Linked DNA regions of Homo sapiens. The protein of the gene in region 2 interacts with the protein of the main gene of each other region in a biochemical or structural test. Each region holds a gene or a part of one and is shown on either strand. Other genes may lie near its edges.

Region 1 (3,500 bases), on a different chromosome or scaffold from region 2:
CAGGCTGCCTCCTTGAAGCAACACAAAACATATCCACTTCCCCAAATCCTAAGGTGGGAGGGAACTTCACTGCTGATCTAGATATTTTTCAAGCTACAGCTGTGGATTAAACCAGTAATTTCTAACCTTCCTGTGTATCAAGCTTGCAACACAGTCAGACACGAGTGGAGATGTGTGCAGTATGCTGCTTGCCTTGTACCCACAGGCCCCTAAATCTCTAGAGCAGAATGTGTATCATGAGCAGTGCTGTATTTAATGTAATAGATGAGAACTGTAAATACCGGAGTCAGGCTGTTAGCAGCTACCAGCTAGGCAATATATCTAAAAATATCTCTCGTATCATTGATGTTATGGTAAATTCATGCTGTGGCCAAAGAAACCTCACAGAAGTAAGCTGAACCTACAGTATTTTAGATGGCATTGCTGGTTAACATCCAAGCAAAACAAAAAGAGGTTCCAAAACCTGTCACTTCTTAAAATAAAAGAATGGTGACACAAGAGTTAACTCTAACCAATTCTTAAAATCGTTTTCGGGTTGCCAACCTCACTATATTATTCTGTTTCAGTATGAGCTTCTTGCATCGTTTTCTTTTAAAACAAAAGCTATGAAACTACTTGTCTAAGAAAGTTAAAACATTTTTCACCTTTTATTATTGTTTGAAGAAAAAAATATAGAAAAAGTTTTCTTTGAAAAGACAAGTCCTAATATGGTTTTTAAAATAGCTAAGGGAACATAGATACCTGATGTTCATTAGCATTTTTTTCTGGCTTAAAAAAGTGCTGATTTTATAAATGGCTTCTTGAGTCAAGCCACAGATGTTTTACTCTGGTGGTGACCATACCGTTTCACTCTCTGCAAACCTCTCTCCTATAACACTCACCGCTATGAAAGGCTACGTTAAATCATAAAGGCTACTTTAGCACCTCCCACCCTCGCCCCAGGAAACTAGCCTTGAATACACAGACTCATGTTTAACAACAACTCCGGGCAGCATGCAGACATAGCAGTGCCCACAATGGCATTACACTGAAGGAGAAGCTCTTTTGAGAGAGGGTCCATTGTTGGCGCGTTCACACGCCTAACCAAGAGACTTTAGGAAGTGTTGTGTATGCAATCAAATGAGAGCTGGAGATAGGCAGGCAGGTGGAGAAACAACTATTTTTGAAGTACTTAAGAGAAGAACTGGGAGCTGCAACCACCAGGCAAATTAAGAAAAAAAGAAATCCTATGTAACCTTTACAATAAAAGGAAAGAGGTACCTTTTTGTGGAAGAGCTGGTGGCCATCAAGCCAAATCCTGTTCCGCAGTCTGCTTCTCACCCACGCAGGGCTCTGTCTGCCGTGGAGAGACCATCGCACGTGCTGGTCACAGTTCCCTCTGTGTTTCCATTCCATTCACCCCTACCCTCTGGCGCCCGCACTCCACCAGCCCACTATCCACAGTGAGTGAGAGTCGAGAGCAGAACAGCACGAGGGAGCAGCCACTGCAGGCTTTCCACAGAGCACAGCTCTGACTGTGGTTTCCGTGGGGAGACTGACAGAGAAGCCCCAAGTTACCAGGAACACCCTCTTCCAGCTCTCAGAGGTAATTCCTCTGAAGACCGAGCTCTTCCCTGATGTGTTGGGACCAGACTTACTGGTTACTATAGAGGCTGCAATTCCCTTCCCATCGAGCCCTGCTAGACACCACTGCAGTCTGAAAGCAAGGAAAGCTTTAAGAGAATGTCCTGTACCATTCCATCTTCTCACAACACAATACTCCTTACAGTAAGACTAAAATATTCCCCCCCGCCAACTTTTCCAATAATCACCACGTGGGGAGCAGAGATTATTTTAAAAGAGGTACATGGTAGGAAAATTTTCCTAGCAGAACAGCCTAATACAGCAATGCTTATCACTCTTTCTCTATCTAATAAATAAGCATTCATGCATTCTTTCTAGTTTTATAACACCTGGCTTACATTTTCTCTGCCATCTCTGATTACTTCTACAGATACCCTGAGGACTCATTATGATGTCAAAGCCAAAAACACTTCCATTGTAGAAACATGCATAGAAAAATCACTGTGTATGCTTGAACAATGCAGGTGTGAAAGAAACACAGAGAGAAGAGAGGGTGGCAAAACAGACAAACAGGGACCAAGTTAAAGAGAGAGGGGGCAGAAGAGAGAGAAAGGAAAGTGGAGAGAAAGAGAGAGAAGAGACAAGACACAAAGATATTACAAACAGAACCACATTGCATTGAAATAGCCCACTGATGGAAAAAATGGATAGCTGTTGCCTTTAAATAATCTAATATCAGAAAAAATCATGCAATAAAATACTATAAAAGTAGAATATTTGTATTATTTCATATGAGTTATGGTCACTATAGGCAATATTTTAAATATTGGGGTGGTATGTCAATTTAAAATATCTTTTTCATACCAGCAACCATGATATGTAGATATGACACTGCCCCCAACCACACACACACAAACACAAACCTACATCTATTTACTTCTTCAAGTTTGTGGTATCTTTTGTCTTCAGTTTTGTTTGGAAGAAATGCAGATCAATGTCAGGTGTTGTGTTGTGGTACAGAATACAGTATGATGAAACTTAGCTTGGTGAAAAATATGTTATTTGCAAGTTTTTGTTCAAGTTTATCCTCAGTTACTCCTTTCTAAAGAATACTACACAACTTTTCAAATAAAAAAGAAGATATTCAAAAAAAGAACTCTTAAAAACTTGAAATAGGAAAATGCATAACATCATTGCGCTCAAATTACGCTATGGAGTAATTAGATTATAAAAATTTACCAAAACTGTAGATCTCTCTTTCTGAGTCTACCATTCATTTGCCTCCTGAACAGAGTTCTGGTGAGACTTTGCATCAAGGTAGACTTCCTGGCAAAGGACAACATGCATTGGAAACACTGGTTATTGATTGAAAATTATAGCCCTGGTCTAAAAGGGACACCCAGCCAAACCAAACTGTAAGTGCAAAGCAGAGTGGTCATTATCAAAGAGCATCTGACTAGTCCCTCTAATTCCACAGAGGAGTTTTTTTTAATATAAAATATTTAAGGGTAAATAAACCTTTAAGTTGTTTGAAGTTAAAATGTATCCACTAAAATATATAACAAGTAAACAAAGTCTTTCAGATTGTATATTATGTATTTCTAAAATAATGTCTCTCCCTCAAATTAAATTGGCTTACAGGTAGAGTTGGAAATCTAGTTTATGCATGTGACTTTGAAAACATTATTTACTTGACAAAATTAATTTTTCACAGAGAAGTAATTGGCTTTTAAAAATTATAAATGTAAAGTATTTATAAAAGCAGCTGAACAAATAATCAGATTATTAACTCAATTTTTTAATTTTAAGTATAATTGTAACAAATAGAAAAACTTTACAAATCTTTGAAATTGCATAATCACTTATTTCTTTTCCCTAATCTATTAAACATTGACACAGAAAGCAGACAGAAAACATCAGACAGTGAAATAATTGGG
Region 2 (3,500 bases):
GTCAAACTACTGTGGCAATGCCATGTCCTTTTTTTTTTTCCTTTTTTTTTTTGAGATGGAGTCTCGCTCTGTTGCCCAGACTGGAGTGCAGTGGCGCAATCTCAGCTCACTGCAACCTCTGCCTCCCAGGTTAAAGCGATTCTCCTGCCTCAGCCTCCTGAGTAGCTAGGATTGCAGGCATGCACCAACAAGCCTAGCTAATTTTTGTATTTTTAGTAGAGACGAGGTTTCACCATGTTGGCCAGGCTGGTCTTGAACTCCTGACCTCGCGATCCTCCCGCCTCGGCCTCCCAAAGTGCTGGGATTACAGGCGTGAGCCACTGTGCCCGGCCATGTCCTTTTTTTAATATGTAGATAATTAATATTCAGCTGAATTTTCCTCCTAAGAATAAAGGTGCCTAAAGGAAGGAAATAGTCTTAACTAAACCAGAGGTCCATTAATACTGTGAAGTGCTTTTAAAATGATATGTGGGTGTATGTATTTTTCTTGGAGTGGGTTTATAGTTTCAGATTCTAAAGTGGGGTTTGGAGTGTGGTTTCATGTGAAACACCACTGGTTTTACATGAAGAGTTTGTTTGACATTTTGTACATAGTCTTCTGTGAGCTCCAAACCAAGTGTTAGAATGTTTATCCTTTGTTGCAGGCATCCTAATATTCTTAGACTGTATGGTTATTTCCATGATGCTACCAGAGTCTACCTAATTCTGGAATATGCACCACTTGGAACAGTTTATAGAGAACTTCAGAAACTTTCAAAGTTTGATGAGCAGAGAACTGCTACTGTAAGTGTTCATTTATTGTCCAGGCTAATTGTGTTTCCTTTATACCTGTCCTCCATAGCAATGTACCTTTCATCATAGTAGAGTGGGTTTTGTCTTGACGTAAGGATAGCTTAATATCAAATATTTGAAGTGGAAAAATCAAAATAGCTTAGTTGTACCATATGTACAGATAAAGTCTAGAACCAGGTAGAATGTTGTATCTGCTTTTGTGCCTAGTTTGCACAGCTGTTTTCTATGGAAATGTATATAATGTATATAGATAGTCACCCTCATTTTCTTTAATAGATGTTTTATTTTAGAATAATTTTTATTTTATTTTATTTTTTTTAAAGGGACAGGGTCTTGTTATGTTGCCCAGGCTGGACTCAAGTGATTCTCCACCTCAGCCTCCCGAGTAGCTGGGACTACAGGTGCACACCATTGTACCTGGCTAGGATAGTTTTAGATTTACAGAAATTGTGAAGGCAGTACAGAGAGTTCCCATATACCCCACACTGAATTTCCTACTAATTCTCCTACTAACATCTTGCATTAATATGGCACATTTGTCACATTCAATGAACCAATATTGATATATAACTATTAACTCAAGTCCACATTTTATTCAGATTTTCTTAGTTTTTCTCATGATTAAATTGGGCTTATGGGTTTTTGAGAGGGAGATCAGAGGTAAAGTGCATTCTTATCACATACCAGGGATGTAAACTCTTATGACTTTTAACTGTGGATGTCAGCTTGATCTTCTGACTCAGAGAGTGTTTGTCTGGTTTCTCCACTGTAAAGTTACTATTTTTTCCCCTTTCCGTGCTGTATTTCTTCAAAGGAAGTTACTATGAATAGCCCACACTTAAGGAGTAGAGAGTGGATGGAGTATTGCCATAAATTATCTGGAATTCTGTGCCAGAGATAAGGCTGTTCTCCCTTATTTATTTAATCATTTATTTATTTAAAGATGTAGACTCCTGGGTATTTATTTTATCTCTTGAGCTATAATGCAATACTTTATTTTGTGGTTCAGATCATTGCAACTTTGGCCACTGGGAACTTTTTTTCTTTCTTTTTTTTTTTTTTTCTTTTTGAGACGGAGTCTCACTCTGTCGCCCAGGCTGGAGTGCAGTGGCGCTATCTTGGCTCACTGCAACCTCAGCCTCCCAGGTTGAAGCGATTCTTCTGCCTCAGCCTCCCAAGTAGCTGGAAGTACAGGCACCCACCACCACACCTGGCTAATTTTTGTATTTTTAGTAGAGACGGGGTTTCACCATATTGGCCAGGCTGGTCTTGAACTCCTGACCTTGTGATCCACCCACCTCAGCCTCCCAAAGTGCTGGGATTACAGGCATGAGCCACCGTGCCCGGCCTGCTCTTTTTGTTTTACCAGGTTCCTGGGAAAATCATTGCAGTTTTGTCTTGCGTGTGTGTGGTTTTTTTTTGGTTTGTTTTTACACTTCCTTTTTTTTTTTTTCTTTTTTTGAGATGGAATCTCACTCTGTCGCCCAGGCTGGAGTGCAGTGGCATAATCTTGGCTCACTGCAGCCTTCACCTCCTGGGTTCAAGCGATTCTCCTGCCTCAGCCTCCTGAGTAGCTAGGATTAACAGGCATGCACCACCACACCCGGCTCATTTTTGTATTTTTAGTAGAGATGGGGTTTTGCCATGTTGGCCAGGCTGGTCTCTAACCCCTGACCTCAGGTAATCTGCCCGCCTCAGCCTCCCAAAGTGCTAGGATTACAGGTGTGAGCCACCACGCCTGGCCTTGTACTTCCTTACTTTCTGATACAAGATGCTCAGGCCTCATCGTGTATATTTCCTGCTCCAGTCCTAGAATCGAACCACTTCTCCAAGGAGCCCTGTTTCCTTTTCTTGGAGAATGTTATTAGAAACCAAGCTCTGGGCACTTGGTGTACTCATTGCTACTATGGTGTCACTACTTTTAGGCTTTCAGCTGACACAGCAAGGGAATATATGTGGATAGTAATCTGTGTATAGATTTATCCATCTATCTCTTCATTAAGCATACCATGAATTCATACTGATGTCTTCAACTTGAATCCATTACCACGTTTCATTCTAACTTCCTCCTGTTTACCTGTAAACTCCCACTCCAAAAGTGTGAAACCTGGATTTCACCGCCCACCATCCTTTTACTTATTCAATTCCAATATACATGTATAATGGTATCAGAATTGTTAACCAGCTGCCACGTGGGAACCAACTTTATCAATTAGAGTGCTTATGTGCACTTCCTTTGGCCTTTGTCTTATAGATTCCACTCATTTCCAAAGCTGCTTGGATCAACACTTTACCCTCATGCCCTTTAGTAAGGTGGTTTCCTACATTTGTAATGCAATGAGATTTTTTTGTCACAATCTGCATGCCCAGGATGGAATCATTTACATTTTCATATCCTGAGATTGATTTTTGTGTGTTTGCTGTAAAGTTCTATGAATTTCGACAAATACACAATGCCATGTATCCACCATTATGATATAGAGAATAGTTTCGCTGCTCTTAAGAAAAAAAAAATCCTGTGTCTCAACTACTCATCCCTTCCAACCCTTCCATCTCTGGCAACCACTGATCTGTTTACTGTCTCTATTGCCTTTTCCAGAATATCATGTAATTGGAATCATAACAGTATGTAGCTTTTTTAGGTGGGCTTCTTCCACTTAGCAATATGCATTGAAGATTCATCTGTGTATTTTTGGAGGCATGAGAGC

The links. Proteins that work in one complex are often made in the same cells at the same time.
Region 1: the proteins of AURKA (region 2) and MYT1L form a complex in vitro, tested with the Homo sapiens proteins (one study listed by BioGRID).

What each region holds. Positions count from the first base shown.
Region 1 is NC_000002.12:2,324,776-2,328,275, forward strand, and holds part of MYT1L (myelin transcription factor 1-like protein), read right to left. Parts: intron 2,334-3,500; exon of another isoform or gene 1-2,333. UniProt on the Homo sapiens protein: Transcription factor that plays a key role in neuronal differentiation by specifically repressing expression of non-neuronal genes during neuron differentiation.
Region 2 is NC_000020.11:56,378,716-56,382,215, reverse strand, and holds part of AURKA (aurora kinase A), read left to right. Parts: intron 1-644; coding exon 645-783; intron 784-3,500. UniProt on the Homo sapiens protein: Mitotic serine/threonine kinase that contributes to the regulation of cell cycle progression.